Homo sapiens: one gene and its partner. The protein of the gene in region 1 purifies or fractionates together with the protein of each later gene. This does not show direct contact. Each region holds a gene or a part of one and is shown on either strand. Other genes may lie near its edges.

Region 1 (3,733 bases):
CACGCCTGTAATCCCAGCACTTTGGGATGCCGAGGCAGGTGGATCACTTGAGTCCAGGAAATCAAGACCAGCCTGGGCAGCATAGTAAGACTGTGTCTCTAGAAAAAAAAATTTAAAATTAGTCAGGCATGGTGATGCATGCCTGTTTTCTCAGCTACTTGTGGGGCTGAGGCAGGAGGATGGCTGCAGTGAGTCATGATCGCACCACTGCACTCCAACCTGGCCATCAGACTAAGGCTATGTCTCAAACAAAACAAAACAAAACAAAACAAAACAAAACAAAACAAAACAAAACAAAACAAAACTGGTGGGCTAGGACAGCCCCAAGAGAAGGTTGAGGATCTCTATCATGGGTCCCAGACGTTTGCACGCATTCACTTATGAGTGTGTCCACAGAGGACATACACGTGCATTTGTGCATATTCAACCCCACACACATATGCACAGGCACACCATTCAAGTGTGCATACACACATACATAGAGACGAACACACATATACCCTGGCACAAACAGGCAAATGCACATGTACACACAGACAGTGCACATTCCTAGCATGATGTAGACTCACACACATATGCATGCATGCATATACAGAGGTAAGCACACAGGCACATCAGATACATACCCTCCTATGCACAAGCATGAGGGACACACAGAGACACAGCCAGGCACATCTCCAAAAAGCCTGTAGACATACAAAAGCATGCACACGGCGTGAAGGTCCACGTGCATGCACATGCATATGCACAGGTCTGTGGTTGCTCATGTCCTTGGCAGATGTGAATCAACACATGGCTGGATCTCAGGGCTAAGAGGCAGCCTGCCGGATCCACACACTTGGACTGCGTGCTCCCTTTTCCAATGCTGCTGCTTTGAGGCCCCAGTCAGAAAGGCAGGCTCTCTGGGCTCGGGAGCTCAGTCAAGGGCACGGGCTGCTGTGAGCCACCCTCCCTCTCTGAGCCAGGCCCCCTGAGTGCGGGAGACTGAGGGGTTTGAGGGGTGGGGAATGGCCGGGACAGATCCTGTCAGAGCTGAAAGGGCCCTCTCAGATCATCTTATTCAAACTTCTCATGGTCCTGATAGGGAAACCGAGCCCCTTCCCTCCCCCACCATATGGAGCCCTTCATCAGCTGAAGAGGTATGAGGAGGGGTGAAGCACACAAACTTGGGTTTCAATTCCACCCCACACCCACAGGCACACATACTAGCTGTGTGCCTTCGAGCAAGTCTTCTCCGAGCCTCAATTTCCTTGTTTGCAGAATGACACTAATCAGTGCCCGCCTCACAGAAATGCCACGAACATTTGGTGGGTGGGTTAAGTCTTTTTTTTTTTTTTTTGACCGAGTCTCGCTCTGTTGCCCAGGCTGGAGTGCAGTGTCTGCTCATTGCAACCTCCACCTCCCGGGTTCAAGCGATTCTCCTGCCTCAGCCTCCCGAGTAGCTGGAATTACAGGCGCCCGCCACCACGCCCAGCTAATTTTTTTTTTTTTTTGTATTTTTAGTAGAGACAGGGTTTCACCGTGTTGGCCAGGCTGGTCTCGAGCTCCTAACCCTAAGTGATCAGCCCGCCTTGGCTTCCCAAAGTGCGGGAATTACAGGCGTAAGTCACCACGCTCGGCAAGGCTGTGTCTTTAAAGTGCCTGACATGGAGTAGGTGGTCAATACACATGATTTGTTGGAAGCAGCTTCCGAAACTGTGTACTAGAGGCACCACAGCAAAGAATGAGGGTTATTCTATATTTGAAAATTCCAGGGTTAGGGTCTCAGGTCCAGTCTGCTCCTTTGCCACAACTCCTCAGCCCTCTACTTTGACTATGCCTGGGTCTAGGAATAGAAGTGATCCATTTGGGAGATGAAGGCTGACACCCCAGAAGCCAGGGATGGTGGGAAGGTGGCAAAAGGCCAGGCCAGGGCTCAGGATTGCTTTGAGCTGCTCTTGTGTTAGGGGCAGCCAAGGGACAAGACGTTTAAGTGTGAGATGAACCCAGTATAAATAGTCCAATACGTGTTTGCTGTGTCTTCCCCTGGAGGCCAGTCAGGGCCCGGAAGGCATCCATGGCCCCTTGGTACAACGAAGCATGCATGAGTCAGTTTCTCACCCGCTCCCCCGCAACACACAGCCACACACCCCACACTCCACACACATGAAACACACACCACACACACACCACAAACACATCACACCATACACACACCACACACCACACACATACACCACACTCCCCCACACACACACCCCACACACCACACACACACACACCACACACCACACACACACCCCACACACCCCACACCCCACACACACCCCCACACACCACACCACACACACACACACCCACACCCCACACACACACACCACACCACACACACCACACCACACACACACATCACACACACCACACACACACACCACACCACACACACACACCACACACCACACACCACACACACACCACACACCACACACACACCACCACACACACACACCCCACACACCACACACACACATCACACACCACACACACCACACACCACACACACACCACACCACACACCACACACACCACACACACACACCACACACCACACACACACCACACACCACACACACCACACCAAACACACACACCACACACACACAACACAGCACACACACATCACACACACACCACACCACACAACATACACACCACACCACACACACACACCACACATACACCACACACACCACACACCACACCACACACACACCACACACCACACACACACCACACCACACACCACACACACACACCCCACACACCACACACACCCCACACACACCCCCAAACGCACACCACACCACACACACACACCCCACACACACCACACACACCACACCACACACACCACACACCACACATACACCTCACACCACACACACACACCCCACACCCCACACACACACCCCACACCCCTCACACACACCATACACACCACACACACCACACACACCACAGCACACACACACCACAGCACACATACACCACACACACACCACACACACACCACACCACACAAGCACACACACCCCACCACACACACACACACCCCACACACCACACACACACCATACACGCCACATACACCCCCCAACACACCACACCACACACACACCACACCACACATACACCACACACACCACACCACACACACACACCACACGCCACACACACACACACCCCACACATCACACATACCACAAACACACACACCACATACACACACACACACCACATACATACAGAACCATTTCTTTGATGTATTCTTTTGCCCCCTTCCAGCACTTAGCATGGTGTTATGCACATAAGGGGTGCCCGGAACACAAATCCTCCCTCATGTTACTCCGCTTCAGGTGGGCATATCAGGTCCTAGAGGGCACTGGCTTGGGAGGTGGGAAATCTGCCTGGAGCGCCATCTCAACCATGACCTCTGGATGACCTTGAGAGGGTCAATTCTCTCTCCTGTCCCTCAGTTCCCTCCTCTTATAGGTAGATAATCATGCAATATCAGAGATGAAAAGGCCCTTGGAGGTCATCTATTCCTCTTTCTCTGTTCCTCTCTCCAAACTACCAGTGAGGAAACTGAGGCCCAGAGAGGGGAGAGATGTGGCCAAGGTCTCAGAGGGCATCAGGACACAGCGGATTCCAATGTGGTCTGTGTAATACACCATAATCTCCCTACTCGTTCTGT
Region 2 (3,733 bases), on another chromosome or scaffold:
TGTAAAATGTCACAGTCTTTTGATAAATGAAATGCTTTTGGGGCACGTATTCCCCTTTGGTGTATGCATTTTTTGCCTGTGACCAGCAATAGCATCAGGGCATCCAGTTTGAGTGGTTTCAGCTTATCTCTCCAGACTGCCTAACCTGAATCCCACCCCCCAACGCAAGAACAATCGCAATTGACTGATTACAGGGGTCGTGTGTCACTCTGGAACTGAGCCTGGGATGTGATCACATGAATTCACTAACATGAGCCAGAGACAAGTCCAGATTATTCCTGGGCAAAATCTAGACATGCCAGTGGCCTTAGCTGTACAGGCTGGTGTTAACAGCAAACTCAGAGTGGGTTTCTGTTCTTCCTTCTTGTCATCGGTTCCAAAAGCTCTTGAGCAGACTTCAGGATTCAGGTTTGAATGTGGTCTTGACTCATCTGGCCAGCTATACAGTAGCACTGAGCCACAGAGCTGGGCTGGATAGAAAGGTCCTCCTTTGCTGTGTGGTCTTATAGGAAACAGCAAGTAAAAAAGTAAAGGGTTAAGTACTAGCAGGCTTCACTGATGCTGTGCTTCCAAAATATATTTGCAGAAAGGTTAAGCTGTATTTGTCTATTCTCTAGTTTAGCATATTATAAAAAGTGGTAGATATACTACTGCTGTTTTATTTGACTGTATGGTGGTGTGTCGTGATTGAATCCGAATAAGTTACTTGTACTTGAGTTTTGTAAATTTATCATTAAAGGGCTAATAGATAGTATTATAAAGCAGCATAGCTATACTCTTATGGCTTCATTAATTATGACACCTAGACATAATTAGGCTCTGGCTAAGAATAGCGGACAAAATGGAAAATCATTTGGGGGAAAAAAGTTTAGATTCTGAGAAACTGAAAGAACATTAGCGGAGGGCATCTGTTGATTATCAGGCACAACACACAGGACTAAGGCATTACCCATCGTACCTCAGCAATGGCACCCATGAGGGGTTATTCCAACAGCCAGTTGTTTAAGAATATGTCCCTCCCCTCTTGATGTTATTTCCATTTCATATTTCTTGATACCCCATACACAAATAATCTAAAGCATCCTCCATGGTTTAGAAATAGCAGTTTTGATGATTCGAAGTTGATCCACTCATTTTTAATGACTTTATTTTTTAGAGCAGTTTTAAGTTATCAGAAAAATTGAACAGGAACTGCAAAGTTCCCATACACCTCCTCTCCTCATGCACACACACAATATCCCCTATTATTAACATCTTGCATTTTGAGGTGCGTTTGGTGTAATTGATGAACCGGTATTAATATATTAGTATTAAAGTCCATAGTTTACATCAGGCTTCATTCACTGTTTGTGTTGTACAGTCTATAGATTTTGACAAATATGTAATGTCCCCCACTACAGTATCATGCAGAATAATTAAACTCCCCCAGATATGCCCTCCTTTCCACCAATTCATTCTTCCCTACTACACCCCGAACTCTTAGCAACTCTGAATCTTTTTACTGTCTCTATGGTTTTGTCATTCCATTCAGTTTTAAGAACTACCCAGCTTTTCCTAAGGAAGCATCATTCATTCCTTTATTCATAAAGTGGTCCCTCAATAAATAGTATGTGCCAATGTAGCGTTCTGCACTTTGGGATTATGACAGAGGACCAAAAATTAAAAATTCCAATCTTCACAAAGCTTACATTCTAATACATCAAGCCTTCAGGCTTGCTTAGATCCTAAATAGAAGTGAAAGGAGTCCCGTGAGAGCACAGGACAAGAGGAGGTTATTGAAGAGAGTAATGTGAAAAGGGGGCCTCCTACCAGTAGACCCCCTTGTCTCAGGCCAGGCCCGGTGCCTCCGTGTTTTGGTCCCAGGAGCTCCGCCTGCCAGCCTCCTCCAGCTGCTGCCCGTGTGTTCTCCCTGAAGAGCATCCAAAGCCCATGCCTTTTCCCAACTCCTCCTCTCTCCTGCTGTCTCCAACATAAGTGTAAGCACCTTTTTCAGACTTCCATTAAGTTTTCACTGCTAGTTATTTATAGCCCTGCCTAGTGCTAATAAAATATAATAGAAAATTTACAAAGTCATAAGAAATAGGTACCCATAAACATCTAAAGACTAACGGGACAAGGCCTTTCCCTTTGCAGAGCAGATAAACCAGAGTTTTTTTCTTCCCTCCAACCCTCTCTGGGGCCAGTAGACATCATTCCCTGGTGCAGCCATAAGAAGCCCTATTCTTTTTCCTGCCACTTTCCGCATAACCCTAGTCCTCCAGAAAGATGAGAGGTTTCCATGAGTGAGGACAGGCCAGGGAGGCGATGGAAGACTGAAAGATCCATTTCATCCTTGCCAGTTCTGCCTCGCTGTCTCCTTTTTGGTTCATACAAGAAACATGCCTAAAAGTCAGCTAAATGGGCTCCTCAGGAACCCTTCTGAGCATGTTCTTAGAGCGGGCCTTGTGGTTTGCTCCTGCTGGTGAGCACCAATAGTGCACATCTCCCCACTGCACATCCAACGGCATTATGCTGGTAGCCTGAAATTGGCCACGGTGAGAACATTTACACATGGATATGAATAAACACTACCAATCCCCATTTCACTAATTTTTTTCTTCAAAGAGCTACTTCACCAGCATGCCAGTGGGCAGATCTTTCTTAGTCAAATTCTTACATTGATTGTACCGTAGAAATGAATTTGATAAACACTATTAATTTATATGTTCTAATTCTACTTTCCATAATTTTAGGTGGGGGGGAGGAATGCCAACCAAAGTCAACAGGAGATTTGATCCAGTAAGTTTTGAAAACCACACTTAGCATCAAGCTACACAGACCTTGCTCTTACTTTTCATTTCCCTTGAGAGAAGGGCTAAGGCAATTCATGGGTAGTTTAGTTTCATCTATGTCATCTTCATTGAAATTTCACGGCAATAGGACTCTAAAATTTTTGCTCTTGTGGGTGTCGGGCCATAATCATAATTAACATTTCTTTTCCCAGATTACAATTTGCTTGTCCCTGTGTAAGTAACAAGGGGTCACCTATGCTGACTCGTCCTTTTGTGCCCCGTGTAGGACTGCACATGCCAGAGCGAAGGCCGATGCCGCCGACCAGGCCGCGCTGGCCGCTCGCCAGGAGTGCGACATCGCGAGAGCTGTGGCCAGGGAGCTGTCACCTGATTTCTACCAACCAGGTAAAACAGTGCTCCTTTGATGGGTGAGGCAGGAGCACTGGCTTTGGCTTGCTTTTATTTCCTTTTCCTTTCAACATAAAGATGTGTGCTTCCTGAATCCCAGCAGTACTATTATACAAAACAAGCAAGGGCGCCTGCGGTTGAGGATCCTTCATCTGAAGTGCTTGGGACCAGAAGTGTTTCAGATTTCAGATTTGTTGATATTTTTCTGTATTTGCATGTACACAGTGAGATCTCTTGAGCTGGGAACCCAAGTTGAAACACGAAATTCATTTATGTTTCATAGATACCTTATACACATAGCCTGGAGGTAATTTTATAGTATATTTTTAATAATTTTGCACATGGAACAAAGTTTTGACTGCATTTTGACTGTGACCATCGGTCATGTGGAATTTTCCACTTGTAGCATCGTGTCGGTGCCCACAATGTTTTGGATTCTGGAGCATTTCAGATTTTTGGATTAGGAATGTTCAACTTGTAGTAACAAATATCACCCGAGGTCTGAGTGTTAGCCCTGGAGATGGGTTATTCCCCAGAGTCTCACCCTTCCTCCC

The links.
Region 2: the proteins of STARD8 (region 1) and JPH1 purify together in Homo sapiens (affinity purification with mass spectrometry; 2 studies listed by BioGRID and IntAct, with this or other methods). This does not show direct contact.

What each region holds. Positions count from the first base shown.
Region 1 is NC_000023.11:68,650,537-68,654,269, forward strand, and holds part of STARD8 (stAR-related lipid transfer protein 8), read left to right. Parts: intron 1-3,733. UniProt on the Homo sapiens protein: Accelerates GTPase activity of RHOA and CDC42, but not RAC1. Stimulates the hydrolysis of phosphatidylinositol 4,5-bisphosphate by PLCD1.
Region 2 is NC_000008.11:74,258,828-74,262,560, reverse strand, and holds part of JPH1 (junctophilin-1), read left to right. Parts: intron 1-3,057; coding exon 3,058-3,176; intron 3,177-3,733. UniProt on the Homo sapiens protein: Junctophilins contribute to the formation of junctional membrane complexes (JMCs) which link the plasma membrane with the endoplasmic or sarcoplasmic reticulum in excitable cells.